6 separate regions of the Homo sapiens genome follow, and all the other regions are reported to be linked to region 4. Evidence: microRNA targets listed by miRTarBase, many of them from high-throughput screens and not tested one by one. Region 4 holds a microRNA gene; each other region holds the end of a gene's coding sequence.
Evidence for each region. The annotated mature microRNA hsa-miR-1237-5p reads CGGGGGCGGGGCCGAAGCGCG and lies in region 4 at 1,802-1,822, opposite strand. An mRNA with a match to its seed (bases 2 to 7 or 8) in the 3' UTR can be bound and repressed. Matches are read on the target gene's strand: a 7mer-m8 pairs with bases 2 to 8, a 7mer-A1 pairs with bases 2 to 7 and ends in A, and an 8mer does both.

Region 1 (5,069 bases), not on the chromosome of region 4:
GCAGGTGTGGCAGGAGGGGGCCCAGCCGTGAGGGCACCAGGTTCAGGCCCGGCATCTCAGGGTGGAGAGCCAGGGCTGTCCTGAACCTCCAGAGGGGGTGAGCTGGGAACTTGTGTGAAGGGGCTTTTTCCAAAAGGAAAACGGGAGCTACTGGCTCACGGCTGATGCCCCAGACAGCCTCGAGGATCTGCAGGTCCCCAGACACCAAGCCTGGGTGCTCTCCAGCAGACGGCGTGGTACCCACAGCTAATGCCTGCCCCTTCCTAGAACGAAGAGTCACTGAAGAAGTGCGTGGAGGATTACCTGGCAAGGATCACCCAGGAGGGCCAGAGGTACCAAGCCCTGAAGGCCCACGCGGAGGAGAAGCTGCAGCTGTGAGTGCTGGGCGAGGCCCCACCCTGGAGGGAGAATCTGAGCACCTGGGCCCCAGCTCAGCCTCTGCCCCGCCCCTACCCCTCCAGGGCAAACGAGGAGATCGCCCAGGTCCGGAGCAAGGCCCAGGCGGAAGCGTTGGCCCTCCAGGCCAGCCTGAGGAAGGAGCAGATGCGCATCCAGTCGCTGGAGAAGACAGTGGAGCAGAAGGTGGGTGCGGGAAGCCCAGCTCAAGGGGCCGTCTGGCAGCACCTTCTAGAAGGCCCTTGGGCCTGCTGCTCCCTCCAAGCAGGGAGAAGCCCCGCAACTCATCTTCCTCCTCCAGACTAAAGAGAACGAGGAGCTGACCAGGATCTGCGACGACCTCATCTCCAAGATGGAGAAGATCTGACCTCCACGGAGCCGCTGTCCCCGCCCCCCTGCTCCCGTCTGTCTGTCCTGTCTGATTCTCTTAGGTGTCATGTTCTTTTTTCTGTCTTGTCTTCAACTTTTTTAAAAACTAGATTGCTTTGAAAACATGACTCAATAAAAGTTTCCTTTCAATTTAAACACTGAAGCCGCTCTGGTCTTGATGAAGCAAAGGTTTCCCAGCTCTAGCCTGAGGCTGAGCCGACCCGCAGGTGCCCTCCCTTCCCCTCAGAGCTGGCCACTTGGTCCCTGCCTACCCCAGGCTCAGGCCACCCTGCCGAGGGGCAGGGACAGCCAGTGGATAGAGGAGGCTCAGGCCTGCCCAGTCTGCCCCGGCCACCTCGGGTTGGCTACATGGTCCTGGCCTCAGGTACACACATCAAAGTCCAAATGGACTCGTTTTTTTGTTTGTTTTTTTGTTTTTTGTTTTTTTTGAGACAGTCTCTCACCCACGCTGGAGTGCAGTGGCGTGAACTCGGCTCACTGTAAGCTCCGCCTCCCAGGTTCACGCCATTCTCCTGCTTCAGCCTCCCGAGTAGCTGGAACTACAGGCGCCCGCCACCACGCCCGGCTAATTTTTTGTATTTTTAGTAGAGACGGGGAAGTTTTCATATAAAACAAAAACTGTGAACAGCCAGGCATGCATGCCGGTGGCTCTGATTCTGGTGCCGACCTGGCGAGCCTGCAGCCCCAGCTAATTGAGCGCTCACCTGGGTGTGGGTGTGGAGGGAGGCCCCCTGCAGGTGCAGCTGCTCAGCTCCTGTCGTCCTCGTCCTTGGGGGCGTGGAGACTTCAGAGCAAAACAGGCTTCCCTGAGGAAGTTCTGTCTCCACACGGCAGGGCTTCCTCCCCGACCCTAACCCCATCTCCAGCAGTCCCGTCCTGCGGATCTCAAACTCAGACAGGCACACTGGAACCCAAGGCAGTTCCAGGAGCCCTTCTGGTCAGGCAGAGGCTTGGCCCAGCTGGGGCATCCCGGGAACCTGGGTACCGAGCTGAGAGATGCTGGTCACTGGGTTCAGCCATGGCACCTAGGACCCCAGCACCAGCCAGAGGGCCAGGGCCTCCTGAGGGGCCAGGCAAGACCAAGGGTTGACGCTGTAACCTGTTTCCAGGGGTCGGTGCTGCTGCTGTGCCCAGATCACGCCGTCCAGAAAAGCCGTTTTCTCCCATCAGTGAAGAGTGGGGCTCCCCACATAGGGAGGGACCCAGGCCGAGATCTGGCCGCAGTCACCTGGCCCCAGTAGTGTCTGAGCCTGGGGGTTGCAGTCCCAGGACCTGCTTCCAAGGCTCTGCGAGTCTGCCCCTTGGCCTGGTGAGCAGCACTGCAGTACTGACCTCGGGTGGGCGCAACAACACCCCCAGCCGCCGCCAGGGGTCGCTTGCCGCCATGGGCCATGCAGGGACCGGACCAGGTGGGTGACACCCTGAAGGGGCGGGGCACGGGTGCCAAGAAGCCGCATGGACCGCCAGGGAGGCTGAGGGGCGGGCAGGGGCTTCAGCCTGGGTGGCCAGTGGGGTGTCCCCAAGGGCATGAGGGTGCATTTGTTCTTAGCACGTTTGGAGGAGGGGGCCTGGCACAGGGATGGACGGCCACAGCGGGCCATGGCCAGTCACGGCTGGGGCAGGGACTGGGCCAGCCTCAGGGGGGCCTGGGGGCCACTCCCTCCCCCTCCACAGCCCACCTGTGCTCCTGCGGCACCTCCTGACTGGCTTCCCAGGACCATCGCGCCCCTCCCTCCCGTGGGCAGCAACCCCCATCTCAGCCCCGAGCCTGGGTAACAATAGGGTGTAATCCCTGGCTGAGGGGCCTCTGAGAGCCTTCCGTGGCCCACTTCACAGACGAGAAACCGAGGCCCACAGACCAGTGGCCATTGGCCGGGGGAGACGGGCCAAGCACAGGGTGTGGGCCCCCTCTCCTGCTTGGGGTTGAGGATATGGGGGAGAAGAAGGGCCCTCGAGCCTCCAGAGCTCACCAGCTGCCCTATGGGCAGCACGGCCCGCCTCGGCCTCCCCGCTGCCCACAGGCATGTCCGGCCGCAGGACTCCCACCTCTCTTTGCCGGGTCAGCTCTGCTCTGACAAGGTCTCAGGACACAAGGCGGCTGCCAGGTCCTCCTCCTCACTCAGCCCTGCCGGTCTGGCCTTCTGGCTCCTCTGACAGCTGCCCAGGGCCCTGTCCCCTGCTGGGGCCTCTCTGAGCCAAGCCGGGAGCCTGCCCGGAGAAGGCCGTGCAGGGCGGCTGAACGTGTCAGGGCACCTGGCCGGGCCTGGGGCCGCGCCGAGGACACCGGCCACCAGGCAGCGTCCTGGGCCGGGAGCCTCTCTCCCAGGACAAAGGGGCCTTGTGTGGCTGAATGGGTGTTTATCCTGGAGCCTGAGTTAACTCAGGGCTGCGAGGCCGGGCGGGGGCCCTGGCACTGGCCTGCCTGGTAAACATGACCTGAGCTGGGCACGCAGCCGTGGCCTGGACTTCCGCAGCCCCGGACCCCCTGCACATCCACGCAGTCGCCTTGTGGGGGGCTCAAGGAAACAGGAGCTGTCCTGGGGGCTGCCTCCGTGGGAGTCCTCATACACAGTCATGGAGGCAGCGCTCGGCTCTGCCCTTCCCACAGCTCAGGGCAGGGCTCAGAAACACCCCCCCGACGTGCCCCATTGGAAGGAGGGGTGAGGGTTAGACGAGGTCGTGAGGGTGAGGCCCTGGTCTGCTGGGATTAGTGTCCTTGCGGGAAGGCAGCAGGCCGGGAGAGCACTTTGGAGGAACTGACCCGCCAGCACCCTGATGGCGGACTTGGCGCCTCCAGAACCCAGAGAAACACGTGTCTGTGGTGCAAGCCATCTGGTCCCAGGCAGGATGAGACCCCGCCGTCCGAGGGGCTGTCCAGCCTGGTGCCCACCCACTGCCCAGCTCCCCCTGCAGCCAATATCCAAATCCCGAGGGGAGTGCAGGGCTCAGCCCACATGGAGAAGCTAGGTCTGTGGGGCACCCCCACCCCTCTAAGGCCACCTAGGAGTGGAACCTGCAGCTGCCTCCCTGGGCTGGTCAAGACCCTTTCAACAGGGCCGGTGGGGCTGCCCCTCCAAGCTCACTCCCATGCCCCCATGCTCTCTCCAGGGGCCGCCAGCCACCAGGCTGGATGGAAGAGGGGGTGGGGGCGAGGGAGATAGGCCAGGACAAGCTGACCACAGCCCGAGCGTTCCCTGCCAGGCACCCCTCTGCAGCCCCCACCCTGCCCTACCCAGCCTGAGCCCCGGGAGAGAGTTCACCCAGCCTGCAGGCAGACCCAGATCACCCTCCCATGGACTCAGGAGCTGTCCCCAGCCCAGGCTGAACCCCAGACCCCTTTCGGTCCCCAAGGTCCATGCCAGTGAGGGTCGCTGCAAGCCCACGTGGTTGCCGGAGGTCCCTCCTCCAGCCCATCACTCCACTTTCTGGGAAGGACCCCCGGAGGCCTGGGGACTAAGCCCCGGCGCCGCGCCGGACTGCCCTGGTGGGCTGAGCGCACATCCCTTGTCTCTCTTAGGGAGCTCTGTGAGGGGCAGGACCGGGCCAGCAGCCGCTCAGGAAGCTGGAGCACGTGAGGGAAAAGCCCTGTCCCCACAGGGCTGAGGCTGGACGAGGTCCAAGGAGGGGCTTCTGCCCGAGCCCAGGCCTTCCTTGGGGTGTGCTCCAGTAGCAGGTGCGCGTGCCACCTGTGCCGTGGGTTGGAGGGGTGGAACGTGTACGTCCTGGCTGCCCCCGAGCTCTGGGGACCCCGAACTCCTGGGGCTTCTGCCTGAGCCTTTGGACCCCAACAGCCTGCAGGGGGCGCCATTGGGCCACCGGAGCCCCTTCTGCAGACCCGGCGCGACCGCACTCCTGCCAGGCTGTTCCTACCGCCTGGCCACAGGCCTCCAGGAGGGGCCCCCACCCTGGGGCGACGAGGAGCCACCTGGGCCCGCACCAGGCCTCCCCACAGGGCCTCCCCACCTGCCCCCTCCCCACTGCTCTCCCTCCCCACCGCTCTCCCTCCCCACCGCACCCCCTCCCCACCACGCCCCCTCCCCACCGTGCCCCCTCCCCACCCAACGTGCCCCCTCCCCATCACGCCCCCTCCCCACCTGTCCCCCCACCACGACCCCTCCCCACCTGTTCCCTCCCCCTGCCCCCTCCCCACCACGAACCCTCCCCACCTGTCCCCTCCTCACCTGTCCCCTCCCCACCTCCCCCCTCCCCACTGCGCCCCCTCCCCAATGCACCCCCTCCCCAACACGCCCCCTCCCCACTGCCCCCCCTCCCCAAGGCACCCC
Region 2 (5,066 bases), not on the chromosome of region 4:
CATAGAGGAGCTGCTGGTGAGTGGGCGGCACCCCAGCATGCCAGCCTTCCCTGCACTGCTACCCGCTGCTCCGGGCCACCGGGGCCATGAGACCTGTCCTGATGGTGAGTGTCCAGGTGGGAGGGTGGGATGCCCCTGGGCATCCTGGAGCTGCCCAGGCAGCTCCATCCACCTTCCCTTTGTTCCTGGACAGATCCCTGTGAAGACCCAGGCCCCACCCCTCCTGTCCAGCTGGCCAAGAACTGGACCTTCCCCAATACTAGGGCAGCCGGCAGCTCCTCGGACCCTCTCATGTGCCCACCCCGACAACTGGAGGGGCTGCCCAGGACCCCCATGGTGAGAATTGCAGCAGAGGAAAGGGAAAGGACTCGGGAGCAGGAGGGAGTGATGTGGGGAGACCAGTTTCTCCAGTAAGGTACGGCCTGTGTGTCGCACAGTCTCAGTGCTGCACCCTCTGGGAGGAGGACCCCTGGGATGCCCTGTGAGCGGCCCTCCCCACTGCCCTCCTTGCACTTCTCTCGTGGGGAAAGGTTTCTGTCCCTCCCCAGAACCTTGTAGGACTGTTCTCAGTTGTACCTCCAGCCTGTTTCCTCTGAAGTATACCCCACCTTGGGCCCCCTCTGGAGCAGCCCCCCATCAGGTGCACAGACGCCCCTCAGAGCTCAGTGCCTCTGAGGCTGGGCCGAAAGGTGGAGAGGAGCTTCCTCCCGAGCTGCCCCTCCTTTCCCAGGCCCTGCCCGTGGACCGGAAGCGAAGCCAGGAGCCCAGCCGCCCGTCCCCTACGCCCCAGGGCCCACCTTTCGGGGGTAGCCGCACCCCCAGCACTTCGGACATGGCCGAGGAAGGCAGAGTGGCCAGCGGGGGCCCCCCAGGGCTGGAGACCTCGGAGTCTCTCAGTGACTCACTCTACGACTCGCTGTCCTCTTGTGGGAGTCAGGGCTGAGGGGCTGCGCCACGCCACGGCCCCGCTGGAGCTGGGGACCACAGACTGGACCGGCTCTCTTCATGCCCAGCCCCCGGAGACGGGGACCCCTCCCTGAAGGGACCAAGGAGGCAGGTGGATAAGAAGGTGAAAAGGGGGTCCCTGGCACACCCCACCACCCACTGCTTCGGCGGATGAGATGACCGTGCTCAGCTCAGGGAGAGACCCCGCCCTTGGTCCCTTCTCTCACCCAGAGTAAGGCTCTTCCTGGAAGGGACTGGGGGTTAAAGGCCACTGTGTCGCAGCCCTCCAGTCCCTACTTCAGGCTGAGCCATCTTGTGGTGCTGGGCTTCCTGCCCACCAGCCGTGCCATCTCTGCCCAACCCGGCTGCTCCTCTGCCCCGAAGCCCTCGCGAGGCCCTCCTGGAGGCCCCCGTGCTGGTGGAGTTTGGGGGCCAGGGGGACAAGTTGCCTTCTCTCTCTGCCCTGGTCCTCCCTGCTGTCTGGATGGTGCTGCCCTCCTCTGCCCCATGCCTTTGGGGTCTGTTCGTCCGTCTTTTTTGTTGTTGTTTTTATATATTGAAGCGCCTGGCCCAGCCCCCAGCCCCCAGCCCCGCACTGCGGTTAATTTATGTGTTGTTTAAAATGCGGCTGCTCTGCTTCCTGCCTCTGCTTCTGCCGTATCCCTAATAAAATGTGGAGGCCCCCTCCCTGCCCCTGAGTCGGCTTGTTGTGTGGGAGGACTCAGGCAGGCCAGGTCGGGGGACACTGCATGGGTGCCAGGTTGAGGGACCCCAGGCCCCCTTGTGACACAGCCCCCTCACCAGGGCAACTGGCTGGAGTCATCCCAGAAGGTAACTGAGGGTTGGGAGAGTAGGGCCTGCTTAGGCCCGGAAGGGTATCTGGGCTCGGAGAGATTCTCCTGGGCCAGGGCTTGGGCACGGCGCGAGGCTGGGTGGCCCCTTGGAGAGGGAGCTGGGGAAGATGGCTGTGGACATGCACTCAGGCCCCACGTGTCCCAGGCTGGGGGGGACATGCAGACTCTGAGTAGAGTTGCATCTCTTCTCCAGACCTTGGTTTTCCTCCTCTATAGAAGATTAGAAAGTTAATCCAGACGAGCTGGTCCCATCAGCCAGACTTTCTTCTCAGCATTCTCCTCTTCCTACCCCTTCCCCAATTCTCTTCCTACCCCTTCTTAGTTAATATCATCATTGAAGAAATTAACAAGACGGAGAGTGTCAAGTCAGATGTCTGGGTTTTTTTTTTTTTTTTTAAGTCAGTATCCCATTTTCTTACCTCTTGTCTTCTACTTCCAGATTCCTATCCCACTGTCCTATCTTTTCTGCTTTTATGGGCTTAAGCATAATATTACCAAGCTGTAAATCTGCTTCTTGCCAGGTGGGCTTCAAGAGGTCTACCTCCTTCCCACTTTTTATTTCTTGGTTTTTCAAGCCCTCTTCTCTGCTTGAACTTGGTAGATTACCTCATTTCCTAGTTAGAACAGAATTGTTTGCCTGCAGGATATTTCTCCTATTTCCTTCTGGGGAAGGAGTTTGGCATAGTAGGTTTGATGCAGGACTCCACCTCTTTCAAGCTGAGACCAGAGGGTCCATCCGCATTCTTACCACCAGGGTCTGATCCATCTGCCTAGGCTTTATTCTCTGGTGTTTGCAAATACAAGGCGTCACCTTGGTTTCCAGGGCAATGTGGGCTGACTGACCAAGGCAGGGCAGGTGGCATCAGTCACACCTGACGCCTGGAGGCAGCCATTGCCTACCAACTGTTCCATGGTGGGAAACTTCCTAAATCCCCCAGCATTCTGCTAAGAGACCCTGGATCCAGATGAGCCACCCCACAGCCTACATAATTGTGTGCCCTTCACACAGACCCAGTATTTTATCTAAAATGATTCTGTGGAGGAGGACATGCAGTTGAGTTTAAAGACACTCCTGGGGAATCAATTTCTTGCACTTCAAAGAAAGGTTAGGCTAAAAGACCATTTGATCCTTACTAAGGCAGAACACTTCATATCTCAGTTTGCAACATCTTCCTGCAGAATTCAGGTAAATTCACTGTTTTCTCCAAGAATAATAGGTGAATGTTTGCCTTTGCAATGTGCAAGACCCATTCTGCTGGATTTTCCAAACAAAGGAAGACAAAACTGCCAGGCCACCTCCCCCATCCCCCAAAATGGCATCAAGGCATCAGCAAAAGATTATGACAAGGCTTCAGGTTCAACTTCACTGGGCACTTTGCCTTTTGCAGGAAATGTCCCAAAAACATTAACTCAAGTTTTCTCTGGGTAGCCAGTGGGTTTTTTTTTCCTTCTTTACCCTTTTGTAGATTTCTACAAATAGTGTGCTTTGTTTTCTTTAAAAAAAAAATTTTTTTTTGTAGAGATGGGGTCTCACTATGTTGCCCAGGCTGGTCTCAAACTCCTGGCCTCTCCAAGTTCTGGGATTACAGGTGTGAGCCACTGCATCCAACCTGTTTTGTTTTCTTTATCAAAAAAAGTTTTAAGGCCGGGTGCAGTGGCTCACGCCTGTAATCCCAGCACTTTGGGAGGCTGAGGTGGGTGGATCACGAGGTCAGGAGATCTATACCATCCTGGTTAACACAGTGAAACCCTGTCTCTACTAAAAATACAAAAAACTAGCCAGGCGTGGTGGCACGCGCCTGTAGTCCCAGTTACTCCAGAGGCTGAGGCAGAAGAATTGCTTGAACCCAGGAGGCGGGCCTTGCAGTGAGCCAAGATCGCGCCACTGCACTCCAGCCTGGGCGACAGAGTGAGACTCCGTCTCAAAAAAAAAAAAGTTAAAAAAAATTTTTTCCCGAGACTATAGAAATGCTCACCTGTATTAACTTCAAATTCATGTGGCCTTAAGTAATTTATTTATATGCTTGAACTAACTCACACAGGATTACAGAATGAGGGTATATATCTAGAGTTTGCTGCAGAGAATAATTGTTTCTCGTTTAAAACTTTTTTTTTTATTTTTTTGAGACGGAGTCTCTCTCTGTCACCCAGGCAGGACTACAGGCTCCTGCCACCACACCCGGCTAATTTTTTGTATTTTTAGCAGAGGTGGAGTTTCACCATCTTAGCCAGAATGGTCTCAATCTCCTGACCTCGTGATCTGCCCACCTCGGCCTCCCAAAGTGCTGGGATTACAGGTGTGAACCACCGTGTCTGGCCCCTTAAAAGGTTTTTAATTGTTAAAGGAATAGAAATTATAGAAGTATATGTTCCCCAGGCACAATGGCTCATGCATGTAATCCCAGCACTTTAGGAGGCCGAGGCGGGTGGATCACCTGAGGTCAGGAGTTCGAAACCAGCCTGACCAACATGGAGAAACCCCATCTCTACTAAAAAATACAAAATTAGCCAGGCGTGATGGCACATGCCTGGAATCCCAGCTATTCGGGAGGCTGAAGCAGGAGAATCACTTGAACTTGGGAGGCGGAGGTTGCAGTGAGCCAAGATTGCACCATTGCCCTCCAGACTGGGCAACAAAAGCAAAACTCTGTCTCAAAAAAAAAAAAAAGAGTATATGTTCATGGTTTTTAAAAAAAGGAATTGAAATTGAATGTTATAACTAATTATCAGGGAAATGCAAATCAAAACTGCAATGAAATACCACCTCACTCTAGTTAGAATAGCTCTTATCAAAAAGACAAAAGAAAACAAGTGTTGGTGAGGATGTAGAGAAAATAGAACCCTTACACACTGTTGGTGGGAATGTAAATTAGTACCTCTATTAAGGAAAACTGTGGAGGTTCCTCAAAAAATTAAAAGTAGAGCACTATATGATCCAGCAATCCCACCAGTGGGTAAATGGAGGTATCTGTACTCCCTTGTTTATTGCAGCACTGTTCACAATAGCCAAGAATTGAAGTCAACCTAAATGCCAGCAATGGATGAATGGATAAAATGTGGTATATCTACACAGTGGAATACTATTCAGCAATGAAAAAGAATGATATCCTGTCATTTGAAACAAATTATTTGAACCTGAACATTATGTTAAGTGAAATAAGTCAGACACAAAAAGACAAATACCACATGTTCTCACTGATACGTGGAATCTTAAAAAAAAGAAAAAGAAAAAGCCGATCTTATGGAAGTATAGAGCAGATCAGTGGT
Region 3 (5,069 bases), not on the chromosome of region 4:
AGTGAGATGCAGGGGGTCAGAGCCCATGCCTACCGTGTCCACCACAGTCCATCCAGCACCCAGCCCAGGAACTCACACACAGGAGGCCTCAGCAGGACTCCAGGCTTTGGGGTCAGAAGGAACTGACTGGATTGGGTCCCGGTATAAGAGGGAGTTTGCGCAGGGTACTTAACCATTTCTACCTCAGTTTTCAAATTTATAAAATGGAGACAATAATAATATCTTACTATGGAATTGTTGTTGGAAGTTAATGAGATTAGTAAACACCACATAAGGTGATAATTGAGTATTAGACATTAGAGGAACGTATTAAAGAGATTTCAGCAAAGTGCACATGGGATGAATGGAGGAAGGAACTCCTGGGCCTCCTTCCTGGATGCTCTCTGGTGCATGCTGGCCCCACTGCTCTGCACTGACTCCCTTCTCTTCCTCCATTCAGGGACCCCTGATTGAATCCCCGGCAGATGACAGCCCCCCACACCATGCTCCGCCAGCCCTGGCCACCCCCTCCCCAGAGGAAGGAGAGATCCAGTATGCATCCCTCAGCTTCCACAAAGCGAGGCCTCAGTACCCACAGGAACAGGAGGCCATCGGCTATGAGTACTCCGAGATCAACATCCCCAAGTGAGAAACTGCAGAGACTCAGGCCTGTTTGAGGGCTCACGACCCCTGCAGCAAAGAAGCCCGAGACTGATTCCTTTAGAATTAACAGCCCTCCATGCTGTGCAACAGGACATCAGAACTTATTCCTCTTGTCAAACTGAAAATGCGTGCCTGATGACCAAACTCTCCCTTTCTCCATCCAATCGGTCCACACTCCCCGCCCCCGGCCTCTGGTACCCACCATTCTCTTCTCTACTTCTCTGAGGTCGACTATTTTAGGTTCCAAATATAGTGAGATCGTAGAGTGTTTGTCTCTCTGTACCTGGCTTATTTCACTCAACATAATGTTCTCTAGGTTCATCCGTGTTGTTCCAAATAACAGAATAATGTATTGAATATTTCAAAATGGCTAAAAGAGAGGAGTTTAAATGTTGTCACCAAAAAAAAAAAAAAATTAAATATTTGAGCTGACGGATGTGCTAATCATGCTGACGATGGTTCCACGGTGCATCCAGGTGAGGGAGCCTCACTGGGGCTGCGTTCAGGTCGCTCCGGTACTCAGGGCAGGACTGAAATTTAATCCCTGCCTGATTCTAAGGTCTCTTCTCTCATTCGGCACTGAGTGGAACAACCACTGATTGGCACCCCTTGGCCATAAGTTTACAGCATCGCTGTTGATTCCATGGGTGAAGAAATCTGAGAAGCTGGAAGCGCCGGAGCTGAGGGAGGAGGCGCTTGGAATTAGAGCCCAGCTTTGCGCATGGCCCGCCCCGACCTGCAACCCATTGACCAGCTCTGATTGGCAGATGAAGCGCCCAATGGCCACGCTACCCACGACATCATCTTCAGGTCCCGGGTGGGGTCTGCAGACCTCCTACTGGAGCCTCCATCTCCAGGCTTCCGTGTGACTGGGCTGGGTCCCTCTCTTGCCAGTACCCTCCAAAGAGACCCTGGACCCTTTTCAGCCTCGCTGGCCCTATGGGGACCCCCAGCCCTTCTCCATCACCCTCTCCTCACCTGCTTGCCCTTCTGGTCTTGTCCTCAGGTCTGGGGTGGACACTCATGGAGCCCGATTTGTCCTATGGGGAGAAATCAGGGAAGAAGCCACATCTCAGGTCCCTAAGAAACATGGGAGAGTCCTGGATAGAGAGAGGTGAAGGGGCCCGACTTCCCACCAAGTCCAAGCCTAAGTCTTCCTCACATGGGACCCAATGGAGGAGATGGTCTGAGGGCTGCACCTCTGCACCGAGAGTCCTCAACATCTCCATACTTTTAAAGATTTCCGAGGGCACTGGAGGAAGATGCCACTGTGTGGGGAGAAAGAGGCCGGGTGAAGCTGAGGAAGGAGTGGGCACTGTTGGCCTAATTATGAGGGATCACAACAATGATGGAGGTAATAACAGTAATTTACTTCATACCAATTATATGCCAGGCACTATAACTTATGACAGGGTTATCTTTAACCCTCCCAACAGCCAAGCAAGACAGATACTTTAACCCATTTGCAGATGAAGAAATGAGGGTCCAGAGAGGTGATGTTACTTGCCCCAGGTCACACAGCCAGAACATAACAGAGGCCAATATTCCCAAACTGGCTTCTCTGATTCCAGATCCCTGCTCTCATATCGGAGGGGAGGCCCCAGACCATAGAGAACATGGCGCCTTTGAAAGGAATGGGACAGTGGCGTGGAGGTGGTTCTGCCAGGCCAGGGGGGTTCTTCCAGGTGGTGGAAGATGAGGTGATTCAGATACACTCTTTGAAATACCCTTGAACTTTCTTGAGTTTATCACAATCAGTTTAGAATTGCACATTGAATAATATGATGGCATTAATAATAATATCTGAGATTTTATGAAGTGCTTACTGTGTACCAACCCTTCTTCCAAGGTAATTACTACTAAGAGCTTACTTTATCCCCATAGGAGATATCCCTGTGAGGTTTGGACCAGTGTTAGTTCCATTTTACACATGGCAAGTAAAGCACAGTCAGGCCGATTGCCTGCTATCTCACTGTATGGTCGACATTGTAGGCTCCTTGGTGAAGGGACCATATAATAATCATAAATAGGCTCAATATCTAAATATTAAGATAATTGAAGATGTATCTTCTAAAATCTTTAGATAACATAGTGAAAACGCATACACGTATGCTGTGTGTCTCCTCAGCTCCCTCTTGCCCCACCATTTATTCTAGGAAATGCCACTCCTGTGCCTTTTGGGTGGTATCCAGATCCAATCATGATTAAAATATGAGTAACTCCAGGGTGATCTTTTGGGGAGGGAGAAGGGGAGCTGAAAGAGGGGGCTGGATCGTGGTAGCTGTGATATTACTGGGGGCAGGGAAAGCAGTTTGTTCATCTTTTGTTCATCAGAGGCCCAAGAATAAAGCCAGGAGCTTGGTGAAATGTGGGGGGACCGAGAAACTGAATGAGAGACAAATGAATGAGTCACTGAGGTTGACTTAATGTCAACCTAATCATCCAAAATTTCACTTTGGATGATGAGGTTGACATTAAGTCAACCTCAGTGACTCATTCATTTGTCCCTCATTCAGTCTCCATCAATGACTTTGAACACAAGGATAGAAACCCCTGGAAACTTTTCGTCTGAAGAAATTCGAGTGGAAGCAGGATCATTATGGACAGAAGCACTAAGGCCCATTATACTTTTAGGGATCACAAAAATGTTTCAATTTCTTCTAAAATCAGAAGGAAAAAAACTGAATACAACCCACCCTATATTTTATACATGTTTATATCAAGATAGTCGTAAAATATAATTTTTAATATTTTTCTAGAGGAGGGCCCACAAAAGCAAAAATGCACCCCTGGATGGAATCCATTCCGTAAAACAGAAATGGCCCTGCTCTTAGGGGAATGAGGAGGGATTCTGGAGCCCTGTCCACATGAGTTCCCTGCCCCACTCCAAACTCTGGCACCTTCTGCAGCCCTTGTGAAGAATGTGGTTCCAGGTCCAGGAGGGGCCTGCCCCCAGGGAGGAGCCCACCCTAAGGCAGGGGCCCACCCCTTCTCAGCTGAATTCTCTGAGACCTTTTGTCTTGAGACCTCTCTTGAAGACTAGCCAACAACCCTGCATTTCCAAGACCTCGCTGACCTCCCAGGCGAGGTCTTGTATTTAGATATTGAACCTATTTATGATTATTACATGGTCCCTTAGCAAAGGAGCCTACAACATTGACCATACAGTGAGATAGCAGGGAGTCAGCCTGTCTGTGCTTTACTTGCTATGTGTAAAATGGAACTAATACTGGTCCCAACCTCACAGGGATATCTCCTATGGGGATAAAGTAAGCTCTTACTAGTAAATACCTTGGAACAAGGGTTGGTACACAGTAAGCACATCATAAAATCTCAGAGATTGTTATTAATACCATCATATCATTCTGTTTCTGCCCTTGACCTGAGCCCCTCCCCACTATGTCATGGCCACTCTCTCCATCTGCTTTTGCAATCCCCTTTTCTCTGCTCTTCCCTGAATATGAGAATTCTGTTTCCACCTCGAGCTCTCTTCTCTTCCCATGCAGCATAGTTCCTGGGGTTGGGGTGAGGGACAGAGGAGGGACTAGTGGTTGTCTCTTTCTACTTTTTCTGGTTTTGTTTGGTTTTGTTTTTACTCTTTAAGAACATTCTACATAATTGGTTTACAGCAGTGCTGTCCGGTAGAACTTTTGGCAATGACGAAATGGTCTATATTGGCACCGTCCAATCTCATAGCCATGAGCTGGTGTGACTGAGGAGCTGGATTTTTTACTTATTTAATTTTAATTCATTTTAAACTTAGTCACGTATGACTAGTGGCTACCATATTGGTTAATTCATGTTACAGGCCTTTTCTTCACAGATTATTTACTTATTTATTTTTGAGATGGAGTCTCGCACTGTCGCCCAGGCTGGAGTGCCATGGTGTGATCTCGACTCACTGCAACCTGCACTTGAACTGCACTTGAATCTCCCAGGTTCAAGTGATTCTCCTGCCTCAGCCTCCCAAGTAACTGGGATTACAGGTGACTGCCATCACACTTGGCTAATTTTTTGTATTTTTAGTAGAGACGGGATTTCACTATGTTGGCCAGGCTGGTCTCGAACTCCCGACCTGATGATCCGCCCGCCTTGGCCTTCCAACATGCTGGGATTACAGGCTTCAGCCACTGTGCCTGGCCTATTTATTTATTTTTTATACAGGGTGTCTGTTGCCCAGGCTGGAGTGCAGTGGCACGATCTCGGCTCACTGAGCCTCTGCCTCTCGGGCTCAAGAGATCCTCCCACCTCAGCCTCCTGAGTAGCTGGAACTCCAGAAGCACTCCACCACTCCAGGCTAACTTTTGTATTTTTTGTAGAGATGAGGTTTCACCACGTTGCCCAGGCTGGTCTTGAACTCCTGGGCTCAAGTAATCTGCTTGCCTCAGCCTCCCAAAATGTTGGGATTACAGGCATGAGCTACCATG
Region 4 (5,069 bases):
CATCCCCAACCAGGACACCTGGCCCAGTGACCATCCCTGTCCCAGCGTCCCCCTCCCCAACCATGGTCTATGACCTCCAGCTCCGCACCTCGGACCAGCTCCTTGGCTTCCTCGGATACACCCTGCCAGGCCTCCCCGTCAAGGGAGAAGCGCCCCTCGCGGATTTTGCACATGATCTCGGCCGCCTGGCTCTGCCCGCCCTGGCCAGAGGCCCCCTGGAAGGGGACCTGCCCCGACAGCATCATGTACTAGGAGGGTGAGGGGAAGGTGAGGCCGGCCCAGGCTGGGGTGCCGAGGCTGACCCCTCCGCTCCCACAGAACCACTCACCCTCCCCACTAGGGGCACTCCTGAGACCCACGCGTGGTGAACCCTGACTTCTAACCCCCAATACCCGGATGCTCCGACTCTAGCACCAGAGCGACCCCACCTCTGTATTTGAACCACCCCGATCCCAGCTTCGGACGAAACCCAGCCGCCCCCACCAAGATGACCCCTGTCCCCTCCCTCGTGCTGCTGCACATCAGGAAGACGCCAGGTCCGAGCGACCCTGACCCCGCCTCAAGGACCGCGTCCCATACCAGAATGACGCCCAGGCTCCAGAGGTCGCAGGACTCGTCGTAGCCCTGCTGCGCCAGCAGCTCGGGGGCAGCGTACTGCAGCGTGAAGCAGGGCGTCTGCATGGGCACCCCGGGACTCTGCGGCCGCAACCGCGCGAACCCGAAGTCGATGATTTTCACCGGGGCCCCGGGCGTGTCGTCGGCGTACAGGATGTTCTGCGAGGGCGGCGGGGTAGTGGTCAGAGGCAGCCCCCGGCGCCACCGCTCCGCCCCGCCGCCGAGGCAGCTCGCCCACCTCCGGCTTGAGGTCGCGGTGCACCACGCCCGCCTCCTCGTGCATGAAGCTCACGGCCGACACGAGGCTGCGCAGGATCTGGCTTGCTTCCGACTCGCTGAAGTGCCGCTTCTTGCGGATGTGCTCCAGCAGCTCCCCGCCCCGCAGCAGCTCCAGGACCAGGTACGTGTGCAGCTGCGGGCGGCGTGGCGGGCCAAGGTCAACACCCACCCACGGCGGCAAGCCCCCTCCCACCACCCAGGCCCCGCCCCCGGCCTTCGGGCCCTGCCAATGTTCGAGAACCCCCTCCTCAAAGTCCTTTTTCTTTCTTTCTTTCTTTGTTACTTTTTTGGAGACAGTCTCGCTTTGTCGCCCAGGCTGGAATGCAGTGGCACCACCTCGGCTCACTGCAACCTCTGCCTTCCGGGTTCAAGCGATTCTCGTGCCTCAGCCTCCCAAGTAGCTGGGATTACAGGCGCACGCCACCGCGTCCGGCTAATTTTTGTATTTTTCGTAGAGACGGGGTTTCGCCATGTTCCCAGGCTGGTCTCGAACTCCCGACTTCAAGTGATCCGCCCACCTCGACCTCCCAAAGTGCTGGGATCACAGGCGTGAGCCATCGCGCCCGGCCAAAGTCCCTTTTCTTGTCCATCCTCAGCTCCGCCTTCCCGTCCTCAGGCCCTACTCCCCTCAAATTCCACTCCCTGCGCCTCCCTGGTCCCTTTGGGCCCCGAATCAAACGCTAGGCCCCGCCCAATTCACCCCTAGATCCCGCCCATAGTGCCCCCAAGCCCCGCCGCCTGCCCCTTTTCTCTCCGCCCTCCCCTGGCCGGAAGCCATCACCTGGTCGTGATGCACCTCGTGCAGATTCACCACGTTGGGGTGTGACTGGCACAGGCGCAGGGCAGCCACTTCGCGCTGCGTGTTCGCCTCCAGCCTGGGGGACGGAGCAGAAGGAGTTACGGTCGCCGCGCTTCGGCCCCGCCCCCGGGACAGCGCTCTGCCACCCCCACCCCTGCCCGCGCCTGGGCCCTCCCACCTGCGACTGAGGATCTTGACTGCGAACTCCTGGCCGCTCTGGCGCTGGCGGCAGCGGCGACACACAGAAAAGCTGCCCTGGCCCAGCGCAGGCTCCCGCAGGTCCAGCTCGTACTGCTGGAAGAAGGGCGAGTCCTGGAGGCGAAGGCGAAGGCGAAGGCGAAGGCGGCGCGTCAGAGGTCCCACCTGGTAGCCCCGCGGCCCCGCCACGCCCCATGTCGGAGAGGCTTAGGACCTTGCTGAGCTCACGCTGCGGGCGCCAGTTGGATCTAGGCCTAGAGTCCCCGGGCCTAGGCCTCTCCTAAAACCAATTTCCCCCCAACCCAGCCCAGCCCAGCCCACCTGCATCATAGCGCTCCTGGCCACCGCTGCCCGACCTGGCCGGTCTCCAGCACCAGGCGCTTCCAGCCCATCGGTCATCACCGCGTTGTTGTGGTCAAAGAGAATGGAGGGTGCCACAAAGGAGTATCCCTGCAGGGCGGGAGTCCGGGGAATGGGCATGGGCATGGGGGTTGGGGGTGCGGGTGAGGAGACTCTGGTGGGGAACCAGGCAAAGGCAAGACCCTGGACAAGGGGGCAGTGGGGGGTGTTCCAGTTGCATTCTGGTACACACAGGATGTGTGGACACTTTTTATTCCACCTGGTTTTATAATCACTTGGGGCCATGTCTGTCCCCACCAGCCTGTGACCCCAACTTTCTCATCAGAGTGACCACTTATTCCTCCCCAGGTGCCAAGGGCTGAAGGCACTGAAAGGACCAATGAATATATTGAAAGTGTGGCCTGAGTTCACGCTTAGCTTATGAGAATCCAACTCTATCCGCTGAGGAAAAAAAACTTATTCCTCCCTTTCAAGCCGGACTTTGGCTTCTTCTGCAAGGGGAGCTACTGAAGAAATGCAAAAAGAAGGCAGAGTTAATTCTTTGCTTTTCCTAAAGATCCATGTCCTGGCAATTTGAGGAGCTTTTAAGGGTCATTTTAATTGCGTGTTGTGGCCAGGCACGGTGGCTTGCGCCTGTAATCCCAGTACTTTGGGAGGCTGAGGCAGGTAGATCACCTGAGGTCAGGAGTTTGAGACCAGCCTGACCAACATGGAGAAACCCCATCTCTACTAATAATACAAAAATTAGCCAGGCGTGGTGGCACATGCCTGTAATCCCAGCTACTCGGGAGGCTGAGGCACGAGAATCGCTTGAACCCGGGAGGCAGAGGTTGCGGTGAGCCGATATCATGCCATTGCACTCTAGCCTGGGCAACAAGAGCGAAACTGCGTCTCAAAAAAAAAAATTAATTATCTGGGAGTGGTGGCACTTGCCTGTAGTCCTAGCTATTGGGCAGGCTGAGGTGGGAGGATCACTCAAGCCCAGGAGTTCAAGATTGCAGTGAGCCATGGTTGCCCAACTGCACTCCAGCCTGGGCCACAGAACAAGATCCTGTCTCTAAAACATTAATTAATTAATTTTAAAAAATAATTTTAAAAATAAACTATGTGTCATCTTCTCCTAAAAATGTAGTACCCAGATCCGTACCTGGAATATTTTAGGCACTCACTACACATTTTTGAATCATTAAATGAATGAATGAAAGTACCTACCAATTCAAGAGAAAGAACTTTATCATGAGGGCTGTGAGACAATGGAATGGAATGTGGACATTCAAGCACAGAGTTGTCAATTCTAAGAGCTTCAGAGAAGGGACTTATCCAGCCATACTTGGTCTGTCTATTAAACAAACCATACTGGTTTATTTAGTGATAATGATATAATATCATTATGGCAACATGATAAACTGCACAGAAGGAGATGCTGTCCACAGAGGACTGCAGCACAAAGAAAGGGTGACCCCCTGGGCCAGGTGAGCAGACAAGGAGGCCTAAAAGAGGGGTAGAAGCTTGCCATGTAGACTGCTGTAGAGAATGTACTCCAGGTAGCAGGAGCAGCAAGTGCAAAGGCACAGAGGTATATTCTGGAACCTCTGAGCAGTTCGATCATGCCCTCCAGAGCATCAAGTAGGAAAATGATGAGAACTGAGGCTAAGGTTCTAAGCAAGGACCACATCATGAAGGGCCTCAATGCCCAAGCAAAGGGAGTTTGGACTTGTCCAAAAGGTGTAAGCTTCTAAAATTCAGTAGAGGGGGCTTGGCATGGTGGCTCATGCCTCTAATCCCAGCACTTTGGGAGGCCGAGGTGGGCGGACCACAAGGTCAAGAGATTGAGACCATCCAGGCCAACATGGTGAAACCCCATCTCTACTGAAAATACAAAAATTAGCTGGGTGTGGTGGCGCACGCCTGTAGTCCCAACTACTCAGGAGGCTAAGGCAGGAGAATTGCTTGAACCCGTGAGGCAGAGATTTCAGTGAGCCAAGATCTAGCCACTGCACTCCAGCCTGGAGACAGAGTGAGACTCCGTCTCAAAAAAAAAAAAAAAAAAAATTCGGTGGAGGGGACCTGACCCTCCAGGAGTGTACCATGCTATGCCAAGGGCATGCAAAGCCACAATATCAACATGCATCTCCTCCTAGGTGTCCACGTGAGAAAGTGAAGATCTCTTTTTTTTTTTTTTTGAGACGGAGTTTCACTCAGTCGCCCAACCTGGAATGCAATGGTGTGATCTCTGCTCACCGCAACCTCCGCCTCCCAGGTTCAAGGGATTCTCTCACCTCAGCCTCCCGAGTAGCTGGGATTACAGGCGCATACCACCACATCCAGCTAATTTTTGTATTTTTAGTAGAGACGGGGTTTCCCCATGTTGGCCAGGCTGGTCTCGAACTCCTGACCTCAAGTGATCCACCTGCCTCAGCCTCCCAAAGTGCTGGGATTACAGGTGTGAGCCACCACACCCAGCCGCAAGTGAATAATTTCAAACAATATTTTTACATAACAATAAAGAGATGATGGAATAGAAGGGAAATTAACAGAAGGTTTAAAGATAAACCATGAACTATCAAACACACATCCTGCCTGGGTGGTCTCTGTGACTGACAACCCTAGGTCCCACTGAAGTGGCGACGTCTAGGGGAGACGCTGAGTCCCAATCAGGACACAAGGCCTAGGCAGTGTCCTCGGGCCAGCCAGGGCTGAGGCAGACAGCAACATCTCATCTCTCCTGCATCTGGGTTCCATGAGTTTCCCCTCACCTGAAAGATTCGGGGGTCCCCAGGTGGGGGGCTGCCAGGGGGTGAGTAGACAGGCTCCAGCC
Region 5 (5,069 bases), not on the chromosome of region 4:
AAGAGAAAGGGTTGGAGGCCTCCACACCTGTGGGCACCGCTCCTGTCCTCTCCACTGTGTCTTGCCTTCTCAGTTTCCTTCTCCTCTGCAGTGACTGTGCCGCCCTCTGTGGTCTCCCCAGGACCAGTGTTGAGGCACCACTTCAGTAGATCCCCCCAGATCCTTGGAAGGTCTGAGTGGCCACGAGAGGGTGGTGAGAGTTGGCAAGGTGGGCCTTCCTGCAGGGACCACGGGGGGTCAGCATCCTTGCCTCCGTTCTAGACACAGGTGAATGTCAGTGGGCACCCACACTGGCGGAGACTCCAGTGTGAGGGCAAGGAGGAGCCTAGTGAGACTGGATCCTCTGCAGGTGGAAAAATAGGACCTTCTCAGAGTTGGCTGTCACATACAAATTAACAGGGACTGTGGGTGACGTTTCTAACAATAATAATTAAAAAACAACAACCCTGCAGCACATGTCAGCCTGGCGTTGGGCAAGTCTGCCACCTTTCTTTTATTTCGATGTGTAATGGTTCACATGATTTGGATGAGAAAAGGAGGGATCAAACTTTATAGACAAAACCCAGCTGTGTGAAAAACAGGATTAATGCCAGTGATTGGGGATGATCAAAGAGAAACCTTACTTTTTCTCCCCCAGTACTCATTCCACTAAAGGGCGAATTGGCAGAGTTCGGCATCCCTGGGGGGAAAGAGAAGTGCTAGAATCATGCAACGTGTGAGTGACGATAATTCCAAGATCAAAACTTACACACTTAATCTGCTAACTCTTATGGTGAGGGTTTCTTGCCATAGATGCTATGTGGGTCTGTTTCTAAGTAGAATCACTATATTACCCCAGTTAATAAAGAAACATGGATTTAGCAGATTTAAGGTTAATATTGTTTAAATTTAAATAACCTTAAAATAAATCTCTTTCTCTTCTATTATGGCTCTTGACAGATTATACATTTCAGGCACCAATTAGGCAAAGCTTTAGCCTAATTCCACTGTACATATTCTAATTTTTGTGTATGTTTAATCATGCCTCTTTTTAAAATTTCCCAAACTTACTCATGTCTCTATATCATAAGCCTGGTTCCCATATTTAGAGTCACACAGAATTTGGACATTTAATAGAATGTTGCAGCCTAAAAGCGTTTCCCCCGAGTGGGCTTGTAGAATGTTTTTTTGGAAACCAAAACATCCTCATGTTTGCCACAGCCTTAGCAGTTGACGGGCCTCATTCTCACGCACTGAAGGGCAGAGACCCCTTGCTGAGAGATGAAGTCCGTGCTGATGTGCAGACAGCCCCTTGCACTCTAGAGAAGCAACGAACCAACCAAATCTCAGTAAAGGACTTTTTTTTTTTTTTTAACGAAGCCCAGTGGGTTATTTTGATTTTTTTCTTTTCCCCCTGGGGTGAAGGGAGGAGAACTTTAGGGAAGAGGGGAGTAAATGAGACCTTTCGGAGCAGGTATCTCCCAAACTGCCAGGGGCCTCCCCGCTTAGCCCTTCAGGCCACAGTCAGTGGAAGCCATTAAAATCCGGGCGTTGCTTTGTAGAGACGCAAGTTGGAGGCTTTTCCACGGGAGAAGTTGCCCTGCTTGAAAAGGCTTCTTAACTGGTCTTGTTAAACCTCCCCCTTGATCATTAGACATTATCTCTTAATCTGCTCCACACTAGGAAGAATCCAGAGCCAGGCCTGTCGCTGTGGGGGGAGTGGGGCACCCTGAAAATCAGCTCAGGTTCTCAACTTGCCCCAGTCCTCAATTTCCCTTGCGACCGAGGGCCAGCAGGGAGCTCTAAACTTCTTTTCAACTTTGTTGCCCCCTCCCTGTTGAGTCGGCGTTTATGAGGGGGGATGGGTCAGTGGCAGAGCGGGGGAAGATGGCTTCTCAGCCCTCTCCTATTGTCAGGCCTGTTGGGGTCCCACATTCATTCTTTTTTTCTTACACGAGAGCTCGCCCAACCTCAGGGTTGGGAACAGAAACCAATTTAGCCTTCTAAGTGGATGGAAGGCAGGAGCCCACCTCACTGCAAAGGTTGTGAAGTTATTATTACAGATGGGATGTGCAGGACAATTTAAAATATTCTAATTATAAACTTGTAGGGAAGCCTTGTTCTTCATTAATGTAGGATATGAAATCGCCTCTGAGGTACAAGGACAATTACATAGTTGAGAATGTGTCTGTGGTTTGCGCTGCCACTGTGTAAATGTGAGGGTGGTTGCTACGGTCTATCTCCTTCACTTTCACAAAATGAAAAGCACACCAGTGCAAGTTGTCCTTTGATAGATTTTTAATATGATTTTAAAGAGTTTTGTTTGGTCTCATTCTTATTCAATGAGATTAATTTAAAGCACTTATCCCCTGGGTTTAAGTCAATCCATGTAGGATTTGGGCAGGGTTTGTTGCATGGGGGGTTTTGTTTGCAGGAGGCTATGAGAGACTCCTTTCCCACTTCATTAACCCTGAGTTGGGGACAGTCTCTCCTCACCCCCCACCAGAGCCAGAGCTGGGGATTTACCAACCCCCATTCACATGCAAAAGAACTCGAAAGCCGAGGGGCTCCTTGACTTAATTAGCTGCTGTGCATTTTGCAAAATTAGAATAATACCCTCGCCATCCCAGGAAAGAAAGCTGCTGTGCGAGGGTGTTTCGGGGCAGGGAGGAAACAGTAGCGGACCTGGCTGTGGGTATGGTTTTCGAGAGGGGTTATAGTCTGAACACAGCCCCCGTCTTCAGAGAAACCCTGCCCCCAAACTAGAGGGGCCACGGCTTGCCGGCCCCCAAAACTTCCCAGCGCTGAGGGTTAGCGAGCTGCAGGTGGTGTGTGGGAAGGGAGCACCTGCGCCCACCTCCCCAGAGAGGGAGCAGTCTCAGGTGACCGTGGCCCTTTGGACGTGAACTGGAAGCCTCGAGTCTGACTCGGGACTTAAACCCCTCTCCCCTGAGATGCTAGAGCTGCGGTCTGGGGCAGCCAGAAGAGATGGGGCAGACGCTGGGATTTGGCTCCCCTCTGGGTCTCATTTCCAACCTCCTCCCGGGGTAAAGGGGAGGTGAGAAGATGTGGGAGTGGGGGTTTACCCGATGTGGCGTCTGGTTCGCAGCGAAGGCGCGCGGAGTCCTGCCTGGTGCGGGAGGCCGGGAGGCCCGGGCCGCCTTGGCGCCCGCGAGCGTCGGGAGCCCGAGCGCGGCCGGACGCTGGGCGGAGGGTGGGAGTGATGGGGGGAGCAGCCTCGGAGCCCATCTGTCGGCCCGCGCCCGGCGGGCCGGTCACCAGCTGCCGGGGCCCTTGTCGCGGCCAGATGAGTCGGCTCGGCGAGGGCCCCGCAGCCCGGCCCGCAGCCGACCGAGGCCCCGCGCTGACCCCCGCCTGTTCCGGCACGGACCCCCGCCCCGGCCCTCGGGACCGTCTGGGAGCCGCTAGGAACCAGATGGAGACAGAGGAGGAGGAGGGGAACAACGAGCTGGCCTCGCTGTAGAGATGGGAAGACTGAGGCCAGGGAGGGGAGACCCGGGCCCCAGCGAGTCCCGTCGGGGCCCCCGCGCATGTCCACAGCACCGGGGAAGAGAAGGGGGACAAAAATGTTTCGTTATTGAGGATGGAAGGAAACCGAGTCCCCAGGAGAGGGATGGGAGAGGGGTTGAGTGCGGACCCAGCGACGCGAGCGCGGACAGGCGCCTGGTCATTTGTAAGAAGTTTATTTCGACATTTAAAAAAGAGAGAACCCGAGAGGCCTGGCTGCCCCCGGACCGGGGCTGAGGCTGGGGGCTGGGGTCGGGGTGGGTGGGCAAGCCCCCTTGGCCCCTTCCTGCCCCGCCTGGGAGTGGGGAGGGCACAGGCCACAGACTCACTAATCCACGGACACGGTCACGGGCTCATGGGTCACGAATAAATAACTTCATATACACTTTGCACACGGTATGTACAGCTCAGCCGCTGGCCCAGGTGCTCGAGGGGTAGGGAGACGGGGCTCCGCACTCCCCTTCTCTCCCTGGCGGGGGCGCGGGGAGAGGGGCTGTTCTCCACCTGGAGCGTAGAAGGGGCGTGGGAGAGAGCGAAGCCTGGGAATCAGCCGCACCCGCTCCTGGGGAGAAAGGGGTTGCCTAGGGGAGCCGGCAGAGGCTGGGGGTGGGGAGTGGCAGAGACGCGTATGTACACCCGGCGGGTGGGGATGGCTCCCGGACAGAGCGGCCGCGAGAGAGGACGCCGAGGGGGGCTGGGGAGACGCAGTCCGGGGTCCGGGCCTCAGTGGACTTGGCATTTGGCCCTTCGGGGGGCACTGGGCTGGGGCGCCAGGGAGGGCCGGGCAGGGCCCCCTCCCGGGAAAGGGCGTCGAACCTGCGCCCTCAGAAAGGCGGGCGGAAGGGGCCACGCCGAGCCCGCGGGAGGAGGCCCCGGAGCCGACGGGCGCCTCACCGAGGCTGCGCGGCGCGTGGGAGGACGCCGGCCAGGGGGGGCAGCGGCGGGGGCGGCTCGCTGGCGCCCTGGAGTCCGTGGATGAGGATGCGGGGCACCAGAGGTCTCTGGAGAGCAGGCGGCGGCGCGCTGGGGCCGCGGTACAGGTAGAGCGCCGCGCCGGGGTCCAGGTTGGAAACCAGACTCTGCGGGTAGAAATAAGGCGACGGGAACATCCGCTGGAGCGCTGAGTAATTGCCTGCCTCCGCCAGCAGCTCCAACCCGACGGCCGTCTGTCGCTTCCATTTAGTCCTGGGGGCCGAAATAAACGCGTATGGCGGGATCAGGGCTAGGGCATCCAGCGACCCCAGCCCCTCCCCACTGCTTGGCCCAGAGAGCCTGTAGGGAGGCCAAGAGGGATCGTACTCATTTGTTAATAAATAACCGAGTGCCAGGCACCATCGCACGCCTTACGTGCATCCTCTCCTTTTATCTTCCACCGGCCTTCCGTGGCTCTTACCCCACTTTACAGAGAGGAAAACTGAGGTCTGGGCCGGTTTTCAAAAAGGAGCCTGGGTTTTAAGCCCTGCTGTCTGACCCCAAAGCCCGGCTCTAACTGCGCCTTACCCTGCCCAGGAGATCGCAGAACGAACCCTTGGAGCTGGGTAGGGGGTGCTCCTCCCTGCGCG
Region 6 (5,069 bases), not on the chromosome of region 4:
GGCCTGGATCTTTCTTGGTAAGTCTCGCTTTGAAGCCTGGGCAGGCTGGGCCCTGTCCTATCTCGCCTGCACCTAGCCTGGTGTGTCTCTGGTTCATTATAGCTAAAAAAGGACACATTACCTATTCACATAGACCCTCACAGGCACAAAACAGAACATGGGAGTGGGCCCCAAGGGCAGATGGCCAAGAGCCAGTGGCCTTCTATGTTCCAGCCTCTCCTGGCAAGAACTCTTCTTCCCCACAGGTCCATCAGCCTAGCCTTCAAGTGGTGTGAGCGGCCTGAGTGGATACACGTGGATAGCCGGCCCTTTGCCTCCCTGAGCCGTGACTCAGGGGCTGCCCTGGGCCTGGGCATTGCCTTGCACTCTCCCTGCTATGCCCAGGTGCGTCGGGCACAGCTGGGAAATGGCCAGAAGATAGCCTGCCTTGTGCTGGCCATGGGGCTGCTGGGCCCCCTGGACTGGCTGGGCCACCCCCCTCAGATCAGCCTCTTCTACATTTTCAATTTCCTCAAGTACACCCTCTGGCCATGCCTAGTCCTGGCCCTCGTGCCCTGGGCAGTGCACATGTTCAGTGCCCAGGAAGCACCGCCCATCCACTCTTCCTGACTTCTTGTGTGCCTCCCTTTCCTTTCCCTCCCACAAAGCCAACACTCTGTGACCACCACACTCCAGGAGGCAGCCCCATCCCCTTCCAGCCCCTAAGTAGGCCCTCCCCTCCCTAAATCTGCTTCCGCACCACCTGGTCTTAGCCCCAAAGATGGGCCTTCTCTCTCCCAGATAAGTTGGTCCTCCCTCTGCCTTTCCTCTCAAGCCCCCAAAGAGCAAAGGCAACAGCAAGACCAGCGGGTTCTTGCAACACTGTGAGGGGCAGCCAGGGCGGCCCCAATAAAGCCCTTGAATACTTTGAGATTCCTTTCTTGCCTATGCGCACATCTCCATGGGCCTTGCCTGTGTGTGCACAAGTGGAACCTTTGCCAGGCTGCTCCAGTAGTCTCTGTGCCATCTCCAGCCCTGTTTCCAGGGGCAGAGAGGCAGGAAAGGAGAGGGCTGTAAACTCAGGTGAGACCTCTCAGCCCTGGGTCCCCTGCCTCATCACTGCCTAGGCCACATGAGAGGTCCCATGAGATGCTGTGACTATATTCGGTATAACCCTGTCTTTTCACTTACAGGACAGATCTTGCGCCCCAACCTCCAGTTTCCTAAATCGGCTTCTAGTCCAGGGGCTGGAGAAAAGAGTAGTGTGTTTGGCTAGGAAGGAGGATGAGAACCTCTACTCCATTTGGGAGCCCAGAGAATAGAGACATTGGCCCCAGAAGGCACTGCCAGAAACAAGTTTATTTACACAAGGACACACAGTGTAACGGGTTACAAAATACTTAACTGAAATCCATATCCAGGGAGACAAAGCAAGGAGTGGGTTTACATGAGAACCAGACCAGCCACAGGGAGAGAGTGGGTAAGGGGCCGGGAGCCTGGGGCTCAGCACAGAGAGGCCTAGTACACTGAGCCTGGCCCCATCCCCATCCCCCAGGAGGATCTAAAACAAACACACAAGCACACTATGAACCGATGGTGCTGGGACTCCTGCCCCTCCCCTGGCTCCCTCAATCCTGCTCAGGCCCCCATAGGATAATAAATATGTAAACAGATTGGTGGGGCCCTGGAGATAGAAGGAGAGAAAGTATATGTGGTACTGGGGAGGAGGAGGAAGGAAGAGTCAGCCCCCTAGGAGCCACTTCCCATCTTTGGTTTCCTACAGGCTGGATGGCATCCCCTGGAAGCCTTGTAGGCCCACAGCCCCTGGCAGGGCTCCTGGGAAAGAGAAGGGACAGCGCCCAGCCCCCTCCTGGTCTTAGCTCCCTTGGGCTGGTGGTCAGCAAAGGGAGCCCAGAAGGTATGGAAGCTCCAGCTGAGAGCCGACTCCTGGATCCCTGGGTTCTGGCCTTACCCCTTCTAGAACCTCCATTCTCACCATCCCCAGGATCCAAAACAAAAGGCCCCAGGAGGGAGGTGAGCCTCTGCCCCTTCTCCCCGCAGCATGCTGGATGGCTGGGAAAATCTGGTCCTGACAGCAGGGGGGCTCTCACCAGCCTGGAGCCCCTCTGCAGGGACCACCTTCTCCCCTTGCCCAGGCTGTGCCAGCAGAGGGGCAGGGAGGCCATCCGAGTAAGGTGGGGAGCAGACCTGGTTCTGTTACTCCTCCTGGCCCCTGAGAACCCAGGAAACCAGTCCTCTCCTTCCCCACACACTTTCACCCTCTCAGCCCCGGGGAAGGGGAAGTAGGCTGTGAGGAGTGTGAGGCAAGACAGCCCTCCTCACAGACTGCAGGCCACAGCTTGGGCACCAGCCTCCCATCAGTGCTGAGACCAAGAGGAAGGAGGAGGAGAGGGGTCTGCAGAGATGGTGAGGACGAAAGAAGGGGAAAGGGTGGAGAATCGCAGGGTGGGTGCCCACCTCCCCTCCACTCTGCATCTTAAAGACAGTAGTGGATCCTCCAGATCCTCCCCTGAGGCTGGAGAAGGGAGGAGAGTGAAATTAAGGCATTTCCCCCCAAATCAGCTGAAACCAAGGCACCGACTTCCCGTTCCCTCCTCACTCGGGGGGCCCCAGAACTGGAGAGTACTGTCTGGGCCCCCGTGCCCACCTTGAGCTGGCCCAGGCTCCAAGGAGGAAAAGGACAGACAGAATGCAGGAAAATGGGGGGAGGGACACATGGGACAGGGCTGGGAAGACACCACCACCCCCTGCAGAGGGAGCAGGCTTCTAGAGCTGAGGTGGAAGCCACAGGGCTGGGGGCCTGAGGCAGCGTAGAGGAGCAGGAGGGGCAAGGCTGAGAGACCCACACGGCACACCTTGTTGAATGTGTGACTTTTTGTTTTTAATAGAAAAAATAAACAAAATCACAATGGTGAAGCCCAGAGGGATGGGGGCCGGGGCGTCACAGGGCAGGCTCCTGCTCCATGGGCTCCTCTGCCGGCCTGTGGGGCAAGCACAGGGGAGGGTATTGAGTGGGGCGCACCAGCAGGGGTGAGGGCAGAGAGGTGGTGCGGGTTGCTGCTTACCTGGGGCTGTGTTCCCGGGCTGCCGCAGCCTGGGCCTGCTCGGCCCCCACCGACAGCAAGGCCATGGCGCTCACAGTCTCGGCCTCCTCGGTCTCACCTGCTTGGGCCTCTCGCAGGGACCGGCCCAGACCAGCGGCGAACTTCTGCACACAGCTCCAGTGTTTGCCTGTGGACGAGAGACAGGCAAGGGGTCAGGGAGGGCAGAGGACACCCACATGAACAGTCCCAGTCCTGGTGCTCCCACAAGCTCCGTGCCCCCTTGGCAGCCTGAGCCCCTCTACGTGTCCTCACGCACTCTGGATCTCGATGACTTTCTCTAGCGTGGCCACTGCGTTGATGTTGGGCTTTTGCTGCAAGACTGCCTCATCCAAGGGCTGCAGCTGGCAGGGGAAAGAAGAGAAGGCTTAGGGTGGGGAGTAGGGTTGCCATGCATACCCCTCTAACTGCCCCACTCAGCCCCAGATATCCCTCACAACAGGGGCAAACATGGCCTTTTTGGACAAACGCATACTCAGAAAGCCTGGCCATTAGCTGTTCCTTAGGACCAAGGAAAAGCTTCCTAAGGGGCTCCCAGTGCTGGCTGACCCCTTGCTGGCCCCTCAGACCTCTGGCCTGCCACCTCCCAGCTCCTTCCCACCCCTTACCTCTACACTGAGCAGAGCCGAGACACAAGCCTCAGAGGCATCACAGATGGCGGTCAAGTCATGGCCTCCCTCCAGGGCCAGCACCACCCGGCCCCCTGCCAGGGTCATCAGCTGCCTGGTCAAGTGGCCAAAACCTTTGAGGATGGGTGAAGGGAGGAAGAAGAAATGGCGAAAGGTAATCAATCAATTCAAGAGCCAGTAAGAGGAGAGAAAAAAGGCCAGGCGCGGTGGCTCACGCCTGTAATCCCAGCACTTTGGGAGGCCAAGGCGGGCAGATCACAAGGTCAGGAGTTCGAGACCAGCCTGACCAACATGGTGAAACCCCGTCTCTACTAAAAATACAATAATTAGCCGGCCATGGTGGCACGCGCCTGTAATCCCAGCTACTTGGGAGGCTGAGGCAGGAGGATGGCATGAACCCAGGAGGCGGAGGTTGCAGTGAGCCGAGATCACGCCATTGCACTCCAGCCTGGGTGACAGAGTGAGACTCCACCTCAAAAAAAAAAAAAAAAAAAAAGAAAGAAAAGGAGAGAAAAAGAAACACAAGAGGTGGGACAAATAGCACAAAATGTGATGGGAGATATAAACCCAAATATATCCATAATAAAATACAGCATCAGTGAACTAAATGCCCTATCACAGTCAAAACATTAACAGACTGGCTGAAGACTCCAATCCAATGACAAGGAGCATCACTGAAACACCAGGGACCAACAAGCCCATCTCTACAGCTCCGGCAGGATACATCCTCTATCCTCTGCTACCCCACTGCCACCTCCTATCCCCTCAAGGCCGGGGTTGGCAGAGGACAAGTTGGGGGAGTTACCAAGATGATTCCAAGTCTAGGCCCTGCCCCCTGCTTTCCCCGTCTGCTGCAATATCAGTCTGTTCCCTGCCCCATGCCTCACTGGACTCGATATCCTCACTGTTTCACTTCCTCCCTCAATCCCCCAGCAGGCTTACATCTGGCGGTGACAGAGTAGCCACCCAGAGGAGACAGATGTCCTTCAACAGCATCAAACCCGGCGGAGACTAGGACCACATCAGGTGAGAACTCGTGGGCAATGGGCATCACCACTGTCCTGCAAAGGGATGGCTCAAGCTGAGCCCGGCAGATGACCAGGCCAGGCCTCGCCCCACTGTTATCCTCCCAGAGACAACCCCCTCTACCCACACTGAACTGAGTGCCTTCTGCCCCTCCCACTGCAGGGCCCAGAGGGGCTCCCACTGACTACCATGGCCCTTTTCAGTCCCTACCTGAAGGCTGTAAGGTACTCCACGTCTCCAATGGGGGGGTCCACACCTCCTGTCCATGCCACGTTCACATTGTACCCCACGCCTGGTCCTCCACCAACCTGGC

Region 1: miRTarBase lists TACC3 as a target of hsa-miR-1237-5p. Seed matches in the 3' UTR shown: 7mer-m8 at 785-791.
Region 2: miRTarBase lists NCKAP5L as a target of hsa-miR-1237-5p. Seed matches in the 3' UTR shown: 7mer-A1 at 1,519-1,525 and 7mer-A1 at 1,526-1,532.
Region 3: miRTarBase lists SIGLEC12 as a target of hsa-miR-1237-5p. Seed matches in the 3' UTR shown: 7mer-m8 at 822-828.
Region 5: miRTarBase lists BARHL1 as a target of hsa-miR-1237-5p. Seed matches in the 3' UTR shown: 7mer-m8 at 3,982-3,988 and 7mer-A1 at 3,748-3,754.
Region 6: miRTarBase lists G6PC3 as a target of hsa-miR-1237-5p. Seed matches in the 3' UTR shown: 7mer-A1 at 814-820.

The regions. Positions count from the first base shown.
Region 1 is chr4:1,744,251-1,749,319 of GRCh38, forward strand. It overlaps TACC3 (transforming acidic coiled-coil containing protein 3), which reads left to right. Exons shown (of 16, transcript NM_006342.3): 14 at 268-374; 15 at 462-582; 16 at 698-921. The coding sequence ends at 763. Among named protein-coding and RNA genes, the nearest start is that of TACC3, 25 kb to the left of the region's middle. RefSeq lists a silencer at 4,572-4,771.
Region 2 is chr12:49,787,716-49,792,781 of GRCh38, reverse strand. It overlaps NCKAP5L (NCK associated protein 5 like), which reads left to right. Exons shown (of 13, transcript NM_001037806.4): 11 at 1-104; 12 at 194-336; 13 at 731-1,630. The coding sequence ends at 943. Among named protein-coding and RNA genes, the nearest start is that of NCKAP5L, 38 kb to the left of the region's middle. RefSeq lists an enhancer at 1,193-2,035.
Region 3 is chr19:51,487,200-51,492,268 of GRCh38, reverse strand. It overlaps SIGLEC12 (sialic acid binding Ig like lectin 12), which reads left to right. Exons shown (of 8, transcript NM_053003.4): 8 at 440-1,042. The coding sequence ends at 628. It overlaps CEACAM18 (CEA cell adhesion molecule 18), which reads right to left. Exons shown (of 6, transcript NM_001405061.1): 6 at 968-1,682. The coding sequence ends at 1,617. Among named protein-coding and RNA genes, the nearest start is that of CEACAM18, 11 kb to the right of the region's middle. RefSeq lists silencers at 3,367-3,547, 4,791-4,950.
Region 4 is chr11:64,365,404-64,370,472 of GRCh38, reverse strand. It overlaps MIR1237 (microRNA 1237), which reads right to left and starts at 1,871; the gene lies at 1,770-1,871. RPS6KA4 (ribosomal protein S6 kinase A4) reads right to left here. Exons shown (of 17, transcript NM_003942.3): 9 at 5,008-5,069; 10 at 2,213-2,341; 11 at 1,872-2,005; 12 at 1,676-1,769; 13 at 854-1,027; 14 at 580-774; 15 at 89-248. RefSeq lists an enhancer at 795-1,314.
Region 5 is chr9:132,588,851-132,593,919 of GRCh38, reverse strand. It overlaps BARHL1 (BarH like homeobox 1), which reads right to left. Exons shown (of 3, transcript NM_020064.4): 3 at 3,668-4,692. The coding sequence ends at 4,398. It overlaps DDX31 (DEAD-box helicase 31), which reads left to right. Exons shown (of 20, transcript NM_022779.9): 20 at 1-923. Among named protein-coding and RNA genes, the nearest start is that of BARHL1, 8.8 kb to the right of the region's middle. RefSeq lists an enhancer at 985-1,486.
Region 6 is chr17:44,075,435-44,080,503 of GRCh38, forward strand. G6PC3 (glucose-6-phosphatase catalytic subunit 3) reads left to right here. Exons shown (of 6, transcript NM_138387.4): 5 at 1-17; 6 at 246-910. The coding sequence ends at 609. It overlaps HDAC5 (histone deacetylase 5), which reads right to left. Exons shown (of 27, transcript NM_005474.5): 22 at 4,967-5,064; 23 at 4,673-4,791; 24 at 3,710-3,843; 25 at 3,361-3,445; 26 at 3,066-3,231; 27 at 1,319-2,981. The coding sequence ends at 2,942. Among named protein-coding and RNA genes, the nearest start is that of G6PC3, 7.2 kb to the left of the region's middle. RefSeq lists enhancers at 1-574, 1,592-2,131.